2 separate regions of the Homo sapiens genome follow, and region 2 is linked to region 1. A link means that fine-mapping ties the variant in region 1 to the expression of a gene that starts in the linked region. Tissue or cell type: thyroid. Region 1 holds a variant in brackets; the other region holds the start of a gene. All regions are shown on one strand. Distances are from middle to middle.

Evidence for each region. PIP is the estimated chance that this variant, and not a neighbour inherited with it, causes the effect.
Region 2: STX19 starts here. The variant in region 1 is fine-mapped to the expression of STX19 in thyroid (GTEx, PIP 0.98).

Annotation. Positions count from the first base shown.
Region 1 is chr3:93,887,377-93,895,568 of GRCh38, reverse strand. PROS1 (protein S) reads left to right here. Exons shown (of 15, transcript NM_000313.4): 10 at 2,447-2,636. Among named protein-coding and RNA genes, the nearest start is that of PROS1, 82 kb to the left of the region's middle. The variant G/A (reference allele first, on the strand shown) is at 4,954.
Region 2 is chr3:94,023,571-94,031,762 of GRCh38, reverse strand. STX19 (syntaxin 19) reads left to right here and starts at 3,166. Exons shown (of 2, transcript NM_001001850.3): 1 at 3,166-3,396. All of the region lies in intron 3 of ARL13B (ARF like GTPase 13B), which reads right to left.

The DNA.
Region 1 (8,192 bases):
TGTTTAGAACTTGATGTTAGATACATGAATGATTATTCATTAAATAATTCAACTAAATTCATAGACGTTATTAAAAACATTGAAAATTATTCTAAGATCAATAACTTACATAAATACTTAAGTAACAGTGCTCCTTCCACACTTTATTTCTGCCAATATGTGGTTTTTTCCTTTAACATCACAGAGCAACTAATATCTTCTAATGATAGAGATTGGAGAAAACTCTTCCCTGCTATGAGAATAATAATGAGAGAAAAATATTAGTTCTAGTAAATAACACTTTTAGGAATACAATTGATCCTCCAAATCCTTGAGTTCCTCATCTGTGGATTTAACCAACCTCGGGTAGATAATATTCAGAAAAAAACACAATGACAATACAATACAAAATAATACAAATGAGACACAATACAGTATGACAACTATTTACATACATTTGCATTGTATTGAGTATTATACATAATGTAGAGACGACTTAAAGTACGTGAGAGGATGTGCATAGGTTATATGCAAATACTATGCCATTCTATATAAGGGACTTGAGCATCTGTGGATATTGATACCATCCAGAGGTCCTGGAGCCAATCTCCAGGAGTTTGTTCATTTCTCACTGACGATTCATAGTAGTTTGATCTCTAACATGGGATCAGAATTGGACAAATTATTTTTTCCAGAATTTATTATTTATTTATTTTAAACTTTTCATTGAAATATAAAGTATGTACCGATATGTACACATTAGATTAAATGTATAGCTTGATGAATTTTTATAAACTGCCCCTTGTGTGATCAACACAAAGAATAGCTAGTGCTTTTATTTATTTTTGCAAATTTCTTGACGTCTGTTGCTCATGATCAAATACTTTCCCTCCGTAAATGTCAACAAATTCATTCTATTTTCCTGTTTACCATGCTTGTGAAAAAGAATGAATTGTTCCCCATTGTAATGAATCAATATGCTGCTGATATATTCCAGAAACAAAATATGCAGAACATGACCCTTTGAAACTATGATTTCAGCCTGATTTTACAAAGAAAAGGAAATTATCTCCATAATAGAATCAACTGCTGGAAGATCCTGAGCATACACAGATTTGGATTTTGGCAAGATAATATTGCTTCACATCAGCAAAATGCTCAGATAATTATGAAAGAGCATAGAAGTCCTTATTCCAAGCAAAATTGTTCTTTTTTTCATAATCTGAGTTCAGTAAATTCCTACTACATTGTTATCCATCCAACATACTTTACTCCACATTTTACCTCTTTTTAAATATTTCTTTGGAATTCTAAAGATGAAAACATTCATTTTGTCACCTTTTCTTTGTTCCATTTGAGGGAGATACGTGCCCCATTGCAAATGGTGCCTCTATTACTATTACTATTTTACTATATTGCGGTAAGAGTGTGGGATTCTGTCCTGCCTAATATAGCAATTATCTGAAGTCCAGACTCTTTAACTTAAATTGCCTTTATTTTAAGTTAGGTGACTAATAGTTATACACCTATTGTTCCTTTTCCCTGTTTGTCTTTCGTCAATCATGTGGATTTGCTAGTCCCTTGGAAACTTCAATGCTGATTCTCATTGAAGTGTTTTAAGGATACTGAATCAACACATGTTATTTTAAGTCCTGCATCCTAAGACTTTTCTCCCCTGTAATAGCTACATATATGTCTAGAGTCTTAATAGCAACAGATGTTGCCAGCACTCAGATACCCCCCAAACACATGGGTAGACTATGTCTTTTAAGTTTTCCTTCTGTGTATTCTACAACAGTGACTTATGCAACTGGAGTTTTAGGAAAGCTAATAGATATATTTTAAGTTTTTAAATTTTACCTTTCTTACCACACATGAAGGCTTAATGATGTCTGCAGTCATCCATGTGCCATCTTGTAGATCTCCACGAGTGATTCCTGACATGTGAAATTATAGGGAAAATATGCCTTTTGATGAATAAACCAACGATGAAATTGTAACACATTTTATGATCACTTATGGATACAGCAAAAACAAAAACAAACAAAAAAGAACAACAACAAAAAAAACTACCACTTCTTAATGTCAGATTATATAGTGTATAAAAGGCTCCAGGAGAGATATAGTATGCCTGATACTTATACCTGTGTATTAATTTCAGCATTTGGAAGGTGCTATCAAAATATATGTCAAAGAAAGATGACAAATTACCAAAGCATCTGTTCCCTGGGGAAAAGATTCCAAGAATAAGCAAGAAAATATAATAACTTAATTTTAAACGTACATGGAACCAGAGATAATACATGAGCAGTCTAATTCTGCCCTTCTCTTTTATTAATTCCAGAAAAAGAAATAAATAATTGACTCTTTGTCTGTGTTACTGTTTGTCAGTACAAGAAAAAAAGAATAATGCATTGAGCTTTCTGTATTTCTTACTCTTAAGGATCTCTCTTTGTCCATTGTTTAGATTTTCAGCAGAATTTGATTTCCGGACATATGATTCAGAAGGCGTGATACTGTACGCAGAATCTATCGATCACTCAGCGTGGCTCCTGATTGCACTTCGTGGTGGAAAGATTGAAGTTCAGCTTAAGAATGAACATACATCCAAAATCACAACTGGAGGTGATGTTATTAATAATGGTCTATGGAATATGGTACGTTTGCAGATTTCATCAATATCTTCCCACTTTGATGCAGTCTGTATAAAATCATAATTTATTTTTATAGTGATACCAAACCAAAATGGATTTGGAGTTATCTGATGCTATATGAGGTATATTCTACATACTGTAAATCCCTGAAGCATCCTGAGAAATAATATTCTCACTTAATATATTAGAATCATTGTTTTTAGTTATTTGCTTGAACTACTCTGTCTTTAACTTTTTACCTTTTTTAGTTGCTGTTTGGTGAACAGTGGTGTTAGGGACTATTAGGAGGCCTAACATTTTTTTTTTTTTTTGAGACAGAGTTTTGCTCTTGTTGCCCAGGCTGGAGTGCAGTGGCGTGATCTCAGCTCACTGCAACCTCCACCTCCCAGGTTCAAGTGATTCTCCTGTTTTGGCCTCTCGAGTAGCTGGGATTACAGGCATGCGCCACCATGCCCGGCTAATTTTGTGTTTTTAGTAGAGACGGGGTTTCTCCGTGTTGGTCCAGCTGGTCTCGAACTCCAGACCTCAGGTGATCCACTTGCCTTGGCCTCCCAAAGTCCTGGGATTACAGATGTGAGCCACCGCGGCTAGCATATTTTTTTTTTTTGAGACAGTCTCACTCTGTCTGCCCAGGCTGGAGTGCCGTGGCATGGTCTTGCCTCACTGCAACCTCCACCTACTAGGTTCAAGAGATTCTTGTGCCTCACCCTCCTGAGTAGCTGGGATTACAGGTGTGCAACAGCATACCTGGCTAATTTTTGTAATTTTAGTAGAGACAGGTTTTCACCATGTTGGCAAGGCTGGTCTCAAACTCCTGGGCTCAAGCTATTCACCCACTTCGGCCTCCCAAAGTGCTGGGATTACAAGAGTGAGCAACCACACCCGGCTGGCATAACAATTTATGCAAAGACAACACTGATCAAGGAAAACTCCTCAATTGCCAACAATATTTTTTAAAGTAAGGAGAAATAAACATAGTAACAAGTCTAAAAAGGTAATTCAAATTCAAATATAAGCAGATAGATAAGTAATCCTTAAAAAAAAATAGACACAGGGTCTTGCTATGTTGCCCAGGCTGGTCTTGAACTCAAGGAATCCTCCTCCCACTTTGGCTTCCCAAAGTGCTGGGATTACAGGCATGAGCCATTGTACCGGACCTAGTTGTCAGTTTTTGTGCAAATGATATACATTAGCAGGTACCAGTGTGCTTAGAAATCAGCATTTTAGGCTGGGCGCAGTGGCTCATGCCTGTAATCCCAGCTCTTTAGGAGGCCAAGGCAGGTGGATCACCTGAGATCAGGAGTTCGAGAGCAGCCTGACCAACATGGCGAAACCCCATCTCTATTAAAAATACAAAAATTAGTCAGGCTTGGTGGCGCACGCCTGCAATCCCAGCAGGAGAATCATTTAAACCCAGGAGGCGGAGGTTGCAGTGAGCCGAGATCACGCCACTGCACTCCAGCCTGGGTGACAAAGCAAGACTGTCTCAAAAATAAAAAGAAAGAAAGAAAGAAAAGAAATTAGCATTTTAATTTAATCCTACATATAGCCTTTAATCTAATGATCAAGAATAGCACTTTAATCAACTGGATTAAAGTGGGACTTTTCTGAAGGGATTACTGCTAGTTGATAGTGGGGAGAAGTCTTTTCTGAAGTATAGAGTCATTGCTGCCATCAGCAGAGGATAGCTGAGAGAAGATTGGCTTCACCTTAGAATGTGGTGCACAAAAGAGACATCTTTTATGCCTAGAGGAGCTGGCAAGAAGTTTGTGCTGATCTCAATTTATTTATTTATGTTATTTATTTATTTATCATCACTATTATTACTATTATTTTGAGACGGAGTCTTGCTCTGTCACCCAGGCTGGAGTGCAGTGATCTCTGCTCACTGCAACTTCTACCTCCTGGGTTCAGGTGATTCTCTTGTCTCAGCCTCTCGAGTAGCTGGGACTATCAGTGCCTGACACCATGCCCAGGTAGTTTTTGTATTTTTAGTAGAGACAGGTTTCACCATGTTGGCCAGGCTGGTCCTGAACTTCAGACCTCAGGTGATCAATTCTCCTCAGCCTCCCAAAGTGCAGGGATTACAGGTGTGAGCCACTGCACCCAGACAAGAAGTTTGTATTGAGAAGTCATGTGAGGTCATCACTAAATTATTTTGGTCCTTCATTTATGCAGACATGCACTCATTTATTCAGTAAGCTTTTAGTGAGTGCTTTTGATGCTAAGTTCCTGAGTTCAAGGCATTAGAACTATAGCATATCGGGGAAACCTGCCCCCAATATTTCATTGTAGGGTCTTTCTATTTTCCATAAGTGTC[G/A]GCTGGCTGAGAAATAAAGAGAAAGAGTACAAAGAGAGAAATTTTACAGCTGGGCCTCCAGGGGTGACATCACATATCGATAGGACTGTGATGCCCACCTGAGCCACAAAACCAGCAAGTTTTTATTAAGGATTTCAAAAGGGGAGAGGGTGTAAGAACAGGGAGTAGGTCACAAAGATCACATGCTTCAAAGTGCAAAAAGGAGACCAAAGATCACATGCTTCTGAGGAAACAGGACAAGGGCAAAATCAGAAACTACTGATAAAGAGTCCAACAAAGACCACAAGCCAAAGGGCAAAAGCAGAATTATTGATAAGGGTCTATGTTCAGCGGTGCACGTATTGTCTTGATAAACATCTTAAACAACAGAAAACAGGTTTTGAGAGCAGAGAACTGGTCTGACCTCAAATTTACCAGGGTGGGGTTTTTTCCCCACCCTAATAAGCCTGAGGGTACTGCAGGAGACCCGGGCGTATTTCAGTCCTTATCCCAACTGCATAAGACAGACACTGCCAGAGCGGCCATTTATAGACCTCCTCCCAGGAATGCATTCCTTCCCCAGGGTATTAATTATTAATATTCTTTGCTAGGAAAAGAATTTAGCAATATCTTCCCTACTTGCAGGTCCGTTTGTAGGCTCTCTGCAAGAAGAAAAATATGGCTCTATTTTGCCCGACCCTGCACGCAGTCAGACCTTATGGTTGTCTTCCCTTGTTCCCTAAAATCGCTGTTATTCTGTTCTTTTTCAAGGTGCACTGATTTCATATTGTTAAACACACATGTTTTACAATCAATTTGTACAGTTAACACAGTTGTGATCCTGAGGTGATGTAGATCCTCAGCTTATGAAGATAACAGGATTAAGAGATTAAAGTAAGACAGGTGTAAGAAATTATGAGTATTATTTGAAAACTAATAAATGTCCATGAAATCTTCACAATTTATGTTCCTCTGCTGTGGCTCCATCCAGTCCCTCCATTCGGGGTCCCTGACTTCCCGCAACAATAGCAAGAGATTTTCCTTGCTCTAGAGCTTAGTACCTCACAGATAAGTAGCTGATGCTTCTTTGGGAAATAATATAATGTAACATGAAATACATTACATTAGAGGTACAAACAAAGCACACTTGGGCAAACGTGGTGAATTTATAAATGATTACATCTTATCTTTGATTATGAGTCTAATATTAATAGGAATTTTAATTGTAAATGTATCATAATTCATTCAGCAAAATATTTATTGGCACTTCTATGTGCTAATCCTTATTCTAGGTGGTAAAGATACAACAGCAAATAAAAAAAAGTCAGTGCTCTTATGGAGCTTGCGTTCTAATGGTGAGACGCAAACAACAAATGCATGAAAAAATAAATATGCCAGATAGTTATTCATGTTATAAGGAAAAAGAAAAGCCAGACAAAGACATAGAGAGTAATGGTGGTTAGTATGCATATAGAATCAGGAAAGGCATCTCTGATGAGATTAGATCTGAGCTGAGACTTGAGAGCACATGTCATGAGAAATAAATGAGGGAATATAAAAAGATTCTGTACCATGTAAACAGCAAGTACAGAATTTCTTGGAATAGGATGTGTTTGGTATTTGAGGAATAACACAGAGTAGTGTAGCAGCAGGGGAGAGTAGTTAGAAAATGAGGTTAGAAACGTGGTCTAGAATAAGATCATCTAGGGCCTTGGAGGCCATGATGAGGATGTGGATTTTATGCTAAATTGAAAGGCCCTGGATGGTTTTGAGAAGGGACATGATCTAGTTTGCATTTTAAAAGATAATCCCAATCAGAAGCTAATGGCTTTGTGGAAACCAGAAGTGGAGAATGAGTGTATAACAGGATATGGGGATATGGAGTTAGGAGACTGTTGGAATAACCCAGCGGAGAGAAGATGACAGTTTGACTGGTGTGCTGATGGTAAGAGTGGTAAGAAGTGGTCAGATTCTGGATATATTTTTGAAGTTAAGCCTTCAATTAAAATTTTTGAATACTCAGCATAAAGAGGGGTTTTAAGGCCATGAAACTGTTTGTGTTGACCAGTGGTTCCAAACACTATCTCATCCAATGTCTGAAAATATATAATGCTCCTTTACTATTCTATAATGAAATGTATCAGTAATATAAACTACCTTCACATATACCCAATCAAAACCAAAATAATTCTGTCATTATTATATTAATATGGATAAATAAAAGGAAAGTAATTTATAAGAAAATAATATGTATTTCAATATATACGTAGTCAACTATAACTATAACACTTGTCAAAGCTTGCTTCTATGCATAAAGTAAAAGCTACAAATGAAGACTAATGCTGGGGTGTTAAATTAGCAACTCAAGTACCATTAAGGGCATACATGGTGTTGCCATTGGTAATATTAATTTTCCAAAGTGGTGGGAAGTTCCTGGTAAAGATATGAACAAAACAAATATCAATCTATCCTTAGTTGTCAAGATTATTACATTCTTGAAAAATGTAATGAATGCTAAAATAGTGCAGCAAATATTTTGTGTCTATGTATGCACAAACTCAGATGATTGTAAGCATGAATATTCCCTACATGAATACCTAGCAGTGATGTTCAAAAGATTTTAAGAATACTTGATATTTTATTATTAGTTCTGCATTACTTATTATTATTAATTCTGCATGACTAGCCTATGTACATAATGCAGATTGTCTATCATCTTGCAGTGCCAGCATGGCCCCTACTCATTGTGACAAATAAAAGTGTTCCTCACCTCCAAATTTTCCAAATGCCCTGGAGTGGAGTCATAGTGTCTCACTTAAAATACTTGCATGGCTACAGGAAAAAGGTCTGGGGCCTGAGCTGTGGGGAGGGGAGGATCCAGCAAAGGAGACTGAGAAGTAGTGGTTAGAGTGTAGAAAGAGAAGCAATCAGGGTCAAGTGTTGTAGGCTAAGTTAAGAAAGTCTGTAAAGGAGAGAATAGTTGTTCACATGCTGCTAATTGGCTATATTAAAGAAGGAGTGTTGACCAACTTTAAATTTGTGTAACTAAATTTATTTTATGTTGGAGGATAGTTTTTCCCTTCCTATCATGGTGTTTTAATATGCTTATTGTTTGGCTTATATTATTGGTTAGTGAGTGAAGAGTTTGCTCTTTGAGTGCTATAGTTTTACTTGAAGTGATTGCAGCAGTGGTTCTTCAAATTGCCTTTGTAGAAGGAATTTTTATTGTTGTTTACCCTTACTTGAAACCTTTTTTAAAA
Region 2 (8,192 bases), 140 kb before region 1:
AACCTTGTAGTATAATTTAAGGTCAGATAATATGATGCCTCCAGCTTTGTTCTTTTTGCTTAGGACTGCTTTGGCTATTCAGGCTTTTTGGTACTTTTTCTTATTTTGAGAGGCATCATTATGAACTTATGGATTTAAAAATGTATTTGATGTGTTTCAATTTGTTGCAGTTATTGCTCTTTTTAAGGCTCAAAGGTACCCATTTTGAGGCAGCAGGAGTCCCCTTCAGGTTGGCTCTTGGACCCTTTTGGTACAACTCCAACAGTCTTTGATAGCTTCTTTATGTTCTACTATGAAACAAGGTTCCAGACTTGCAATCATCCATTTCCCCAAGAAGCCTTGATCTTTTCAGTGGAAAATGGCATTTTAAAGACTAAAACCTAGGAGTTATAGATAAACATTTGCTATTGACTTACTACTGCTTCTAGGCCCTTTCAGTGCACAAAGCTAGGAAATAGTTTTATTCTAGAAAAAAAAAAAATCTAACCATGTATTCGTGTTGATTTTTTCATTTCAAATCAACTACCAAGTTTTACTTAGCTTCTTAAATCTTGTTTTTGTTTATTTCTTTGAGACAGGGTCTCACTCTGTTGCCCAGGCTTAAGTGCAGAGGTGTGACAACAGCTCACTACAGCCTCTACCTCCCAGGCTTGAGCCATCCTCCCACCTCAGCCTCTCAAGTAGCTGGGACTACAGGCGCATACCACTATGCCCAGCTAGTGTTCGAACGTTCTTTTTTTAAAAAATTATTTTAGCAGAGATGGGGTTTCACTATGTTCCCCAGGCTGGTCTCAAACTCCTAGGCTCAATCCTCCTGCCTCAGCCTCCTAAAGTACTGGATTACAGGCATGAGCCACTGTGCCCAGCCTTAGATCTTATTTGTATCTCTTTTTACTTATGCTGAAAACTACAGTTTCTAATGACATTATTTGTTTTATCCAACTATATATAGGAATTTTAACATAATAATATCAATATGATTACTAAATATTAAGACTACTAAGTGCAGGTTAACATATCTTTGTGGTTACGTATCTTTGTCTCTACGCTATATCCCACTAGAGATGCAGAGTCAATAATACTGTTTTAAAATTACTTAAAATAGTACTTCTCTGTGTGGTTTTGCCATCACCTAGATATATACCTAGGTTCATTTCTTTCTAGGTGCTTTTGCATTTTAGAGATCGTTTGTGTATTTGTTTTAAGATTTAATTTCTAAAATATTTATATCGGCTGGACGTGGTGGCTCACACCTGTAATCTCAGCACTCTGGGAGGCCAATGTGGGTGGATCATTTGTCAGGGGTTCAAGACCAGCTTTGCCAACATGGTGAAACCCTGTCTTTACTAAAAAAAAAAAAAAAAAAAAATGAGCCAGGCGTGGTGGCGTGCACCTGTAATACCAGCTACTCGGGAGGCTGAGGCATGAGAATCGCTTGAACCCAGGAGGCAGAGGTTGCAGTGAGCCGAGATCGCGCCACTGCACTCCAGGCTGGGTGACAGAGTGAGACCCTGTCTCAAAAAATAAAAATAAAAAAATATTTATATGGTTCTAAATTCAGAACTATAAAAACAAGGTACAATCAGAAAGGAACTATTTGCTATCTCTCTGCCTTTTCCTTCCCTTCCCTTATAGGTAACCATTTTCATTCGTGTTTAGTTCATCCTCCCATTATTTCTTTTTGAAAATATAAACAAGCGTATGGAGAAAATGGTATTTCAAGGACCATAATTTGGGCACTGTGAATATTCAATGCTATTGACTGGTTTATGTATTTGTGTATATATACAATATTTATATCTACCCTTCCTTTCTTCCTAAAACTTAGCATATTATATATATTCTTCTGCAGCATGCTTGTTTTAACTGAACAGTAAATTTTGAAGTACCCTGAAGCAGTATAATAAAATCTTCACTATTTTCTATAATTGCAAAATGCTCCCCTTTGAATGTTCCATCATTTATTCAGCCAGTTCTACGCTGAAGGACTTTTGTGTTTCCAGTGTTTTGTTTTTACAAAGAGTGCTATAAAAAGTAGGTGTGTAAAGGAGTCATTTCTTATTTTGAGTACAGATTCCAGGAAGTAGAACTGTTAAAACAAAGAATAAATATAAATGTGATTGGCCGGGCATGGTGGTTCACATCTGTAATCCCAGAACTTTGGGAGGCTGAGGCAGGTGGATCACCTGAGGTCAGGAGTTCGAGACCAGCCTGGCAAACATGGTGAAACCCCATTTCTACAAAAAAATTAGCTGGGCGTGGTGGCAGGCAACTGTAATCCCAGCTACTTATGGGGCTCAGGCAGCAGAATTGCTTGAACCCGGGAGACGGAGGTTGCAGTGAGCCAAGATCGTGCCACTGCACTCCAGCCTGGGCTACAAGAGCAAGACTCCTTCTCAAAAAAAAAAAAAAATAAAAAAAAAATAAATATATATATATATATATATATATATATATATATGATTTTGATAGATACAGCAATTTCCTTCTTCTTGCCCTCAAATAGTAACAAGTCAGGTAGAAAAAATGGGTCTGAAATTTGGTAGTACAAGAGAAATTTTCATTTTTAATTCTTCCTATAAACATTTCCCTCTGGTATAAATTAATTTTGAGTTGTTATATTGACAAAATAAATGATTTAACATATATTGCTGGATAACTTTAGTTCTATATAAAATTTATTTTAAAATAAAAACAGCAGGCATAATAAAAAGTAAAAAAAATTAAAAGTAACGTGGGATGAATGGTTTACAGACATGAGCTCTTTCCTGGATGTTCTCCTTCTGAAATTCTATGATTTTGTGAGCTAAGCTCTTTTGGGATTTCCTAAAATAGGACAGATTTCAACCATTTTAAAGTAAATGGAACAAAAAAAGCTTTTACACCAAGCTTCTTTTCATTCCTATTTAATTCCATATTTTTAGTAAGTTTTGATATCTATAGAAAAGAAAGTAACCTTTGTTTAAATACAAACCCATTTTCTTGGAATAATATATTACATATACAATGTAGGACTAAATTTGCAGATCCAGTGCCAAATACTCTACGTAGGCAGTTTAACGAGGACTTCCTGTTACCGACTAGCTCCAATGAAAATGATCTTCCTTTAATCTAAAGAATAGGCGTCTAACAGGCAGAACCAGATTCTCCAGGTGTGAAGTAAGCAATCTATTTTCACTTGCTATTAACAGCAAACGTACAACTTTATCTCTTATTTGACTTCATTATTTGGCTTTCAAATTAACAACATGAAAACTATACAGAAATTAGTCTGTGCCCTATAAGACAGAGATTTAGATAATTTGTTCAAAACATGAGATGATATTCAGATATTCTCTCAAAGGCAGGACTCCAACACCGCAGGTGGAAAACCAACAAAAGGAAGAAAACAGAAAGGTAAATAATGACTCTTTTCTGTACTTTTTAATATGAGGTATCCATAGACTGACATCTGGTTACACTGTTACATTTAAAAATCACTCAACAAATAATGAGGGTTACTTGTTTTGCTCAGATTTGGACCGGGGTACCAGTAGCTGATTTGTTCACATATATTACTGACATGCTGACTGGGATCTGGGTATAAAGCTCTTGAAAATAGACTACGATAATAAAAATCAACTTTAGAGGAAAGAAAAAATTTTTAAGTCTTTTAAAAAGTAAGCTCTCATTTAAAAAATACTAGAAAGTCAGATGTAAAAACAGATCTAAAATTATTTCTTTTATAGACAGACTATGAATGTGCTTACTTTAGAGAACATTTTTATATTTCACTCTGAAAAGCAGCTTATACCCAAATTTGACACATACGTATAACCTTAAAAATCTGAAATAATTTGCTATAATGGTCTTAATTGCTTCATTGTTGTTTACTAGAATCTTCTAAAATTGAAAAAATGAGAAAATAATCTTGTGAAAGGGCTACCAGAAAATATCGAAGTACTCACTAACCTTTATAATATTTCAACTAGTACATTAAAAATACTTGTTATACCATTTAACGTAAGTGTTAGCATTTAATTGATAGTTTGAAAAATTTAAATCAGCATCATTTAAATACAACATATGTAGATAGGTTAGATACTTTCAAAGTTATAATTGTTACTATGTTAGAATTTAATAAATATTCCATTTCAAATCAAAATAATAATGACTTTTATATGTATTTTAAAGGTGGACTTGAGAATTGGCCACGTAATACCTCGAACACATTATCTTCACAGCTATGCAGTTTTAAATGTAATATAAAAATCATTTTATGTATGTACAGCTTACTTGAATCAGATAAAAGTTCAAAAATTATACATCATATTTAAACAAAAATGATCTTAATGTTGTTATACAAGTTAATTCAATAAGTTATTTAGACTAAATAAAATGTAGAAAAAAGCATTGAAAGTTTACATTGCAAAAAAAGTCAGATACTTCAAAATTAGACAATATATGCAATTTGCAATTTTTTTTTAGTTTTTAGAAACTACTATTTGGCCCTCACTTTAGTAGCCAAAGAGGTTAATATATTACAATAAGATCCTCTGCTTTCACTTGCACTAGAAAAATGTGGCAAGTTGACTTCATATACAAAAGCAACAGAATATTCTGTTTTCTCTTGGGTAAAAACTGGTCATATTTCTTGAAATGTTTTATTTAATCATTACAGTAACTATGAAAAGAAATGGCCTACTTTAAAAAAATCTATAAATACACTAAGTATCTATCCCAGGGCATATTTCTAAAAGTACAAGGTAATTTTTACTCATGTTTCTGTTTCTAGGGATTTTCAGTGTCTGTAATAGGGCAGAGAACCTTTTATTTGAGTCGCACCAGTTTACTTTTCTATTTCCCAGAACAAGTTGTCCAAGTTGATTATCATACATACGAGTTAGTGTTCTTTCTTTTTTAAATATCATGTTTAAGCTCACAGATACAGTTCTTGCTAGTAAAATTCAAAACTGTATAGCAATGCTGCAAGTTAAACATAATAAAAGATGATTCATATTTGTATATAACTCTTCCAACATAATAAATTTAAGGTACATAACAGACTGCATAAAATAGTAATTTCATCAATTTCACCTAGTCTAAGCAATTAAATGATTTCACAACTATGAGCTTCATATTTTATGCTTATATGAATCCTGTCCTTGCATGTTTTAAATTCTAACATGCTTATTTGTCTCATTTTGCCTAACATTCTAATTCATGAAGATATAAGATCAATAAATTGGATAGTTATACATATAGTTATGAGTATGCAACTACTAGAAAATGTAATTTATATACAGCATATAAACATATTTGAGTACCTATCAAGTCAATTTCTACACAGATGAACAAGGATTTAGGGAAACATTCTCAATTATGTTAATTCTATAAAGATAAGCAACTGTGACTTTCAGTCAAAATGCACAGATACAGAAGTTACTCCCTCTTTCTCTAAACATACAGAATTTGATGTAATCGTAAGTTTAAAAAAGACAAATTTTAAAACAACATCACTAAATTTTAGAGTAAAAAAGCGAAGTTTTCTCCTGGCTCACACGGTGAAACCCCATCTCTACTAAAAATATAAAAAGTTAGTCGGGTGTGGTGGCGGGCGCCTGTAGTCCCAGCTACTCTGGAGGCTGAGGCAGGAGAATGGCGTGAACCCGGAAGGCGGAGCTTGCAGTGAGCCGAGATGGTGCCACTGCACTCCAGCCTGGGCGACAGAGAGAGACTCCGTCTCAAAAAAAAAAAAAAAAGAGAAGTTTTCAGGTGCCAGAAATGATGAGGAAACATACTTAAAGCCAAAGTGAAGAGTAGTAATTAAAGCTAATTACACTGGGCAAATACTTTACCTTAAAGCTGAGGTTTAGAGTTTGTTGCATTATAGGGAACTAAAACTGAGTTTCCTAGATGAAACAGTTAACTAGGAATAATACAACATAATCTGTATACAAAGACAGGAATAACTCTGTTGACTTGCCCAGGATTATAGCAGGAAGTGAGATATCCACTTAGGCTATAAAAATCACTAGAGAAAAATTAGGCCTACATAATACTACCTGGGCTACAAGGGGCAAACTCCATGGGGCGTTGGTAGTGACAATCAAAAAAATAGCCTCAATGTATCCATAATTGATCAGGACACTCAGAGCATTCTTGTATAACTCCCCAATGAAGCTAGGCTACTGACGAATTTCACTAAATACACTTGCCCACATTTAACAGAGTGGTCACCAGTCCGTGGCCACAGCAAACATAGGAATTTACTCCTAAGAAACTAGAAATAACCTAATAATGTAAAGGATCTTTCACATAAATATTCTCTAAATGTTCAAAAGAAATACAGGCATAGGATCCATAAACCAAGACAAACACAGTATAACCTTTATAGCTCACTTTAAACATCGTTTACATAATACGCATTGCCATGATGTATAACACTGAAAGGAAACCTGATTCTATTTCCATGTTTTGCCTTTAATATCAATAATGTATACAGATATTAAAAAAAGGATATTTTGTTTTTTGCTTGTAAATTCATTAAGATTAATAAAAAGGACATATTAATATATTTTAAAGGGCTCCTTAAAGTACCTTTTATTCAAATATAAAAGTGTGGTGCATGTTCAGGGAATGATATTACATGGATAAAAATCCAGGAAAAAAACAACCTTTATAGAGGTCAGACTCAAATATCCTGCTTTCCAAAATCAGTGGCAGTAAAATGCACCTTCTCAAAGGCACTTCACAGGAAAATTCACCTTCCCAGAGGCCTGTGTACACTGTGCTCCAATAGCAATTTGAAATAGTCTATTTCTTAAAAATTTTTAAACTATGATGCTTTAGAAAAAGGCTTTTGATTACTTTATTTCTAATTTTTTTAAAAAAGAGGCTGGGTGCACTAGCTCATGCCTATAATCCCAGCACTTTGGGAGGCGGAGGTGGGAAGATTGCTTGAGCCCAGGAGTTAGAGATCAGCCTGAGCAACACAGCAAGACCTCATCTTTACAAAAAATTTTAAAAAATCAGCCAAGCACAGTGGCATGCAACTGTAGTCCCAGCTACTCGGGAGGCTGAGGGAGAAGGATCACTTGAGCCTGGGAGGTAGAGGCTGCAGTGAGCCGCAATTGAGCCACTATACTCTAGCCTGGGTGATAGAGTGAGATCCTATCTCAAAAATAAAACAAAACAACACGCCCAAAAAAGGACAAAGATCTTTCCAGTCATAAAAACATTAGAGGGAGTTGTTTCAGGATTTGTTCCAAACCATGCAACCAAAGAGAAAGTTCAAGATGTTGTAGTTCTTGAGGAATGTGAAAATTAAAGATTGTTAAAAGCTACTGAACCATTGTATAAATATAGGACTTAATTTTTATGGATAGAAAATCAAAATCTGTTTTGTTTGATGCCACTTTCTCTTTCTCTCGCCTCTGAGCTTCTAACATTGTTACTCTTTCTTTTTCCCTATATTTACACGGGTGCAACCCAGTTTAAAAAATAATAATGTGGCAACTAGCACTTCAGCTATATATGCTGTATTTTTAAGAATTCATAGTCAAGGTGGAAGGATCCCTTGAGGCTAGGAGTTCAAGACCAGCCTGGACAAAAGAGCGAGATCCTTTCTCTATTAATTGATTAATTAATTAATTTTTAAAAAACAATTCATAGTGACAAGCTAGTACAAGAGAAGGAAACAGAAATTTGGTTAGATGACTATGAGTTGAAGCAGAAGAAAATATAAGAATATCAATCTCCATATAGTACCAAATATAAAATGCAATATTTCTTAGACTTTCTGTAAACATCAGTCTGTGAGATCCAAATTATTTTTCTTCTTTTATAGTGTAAAGTGATCAATTTGGTCTGATTATATTAAAGATCCTAATAAAGCTTCAAACAACAACATTATTTTAGATCCTATATGCTATATTATCTCCTGCTAAATTTTTTCTTTTAAATAGATATAGTATGTATATTAGTAACATAATACAGTATTTGATATAGATAAACATTATTTGTGTATATTTCACTAGGATAACCAATTTCTACTCAATAGACAATAGGGGAAAAAGAACAGATTTGCAATCAAGTAGATATGTCTAAACGTAGGATCTGCCACCTTTTAGTTGTGTGGCCTTAGGCAAGTCACTTTAAAATTCCCCTTATTTGGACGTTGCTTTTCTTGGACTGGACTGTTTCTTTAATTT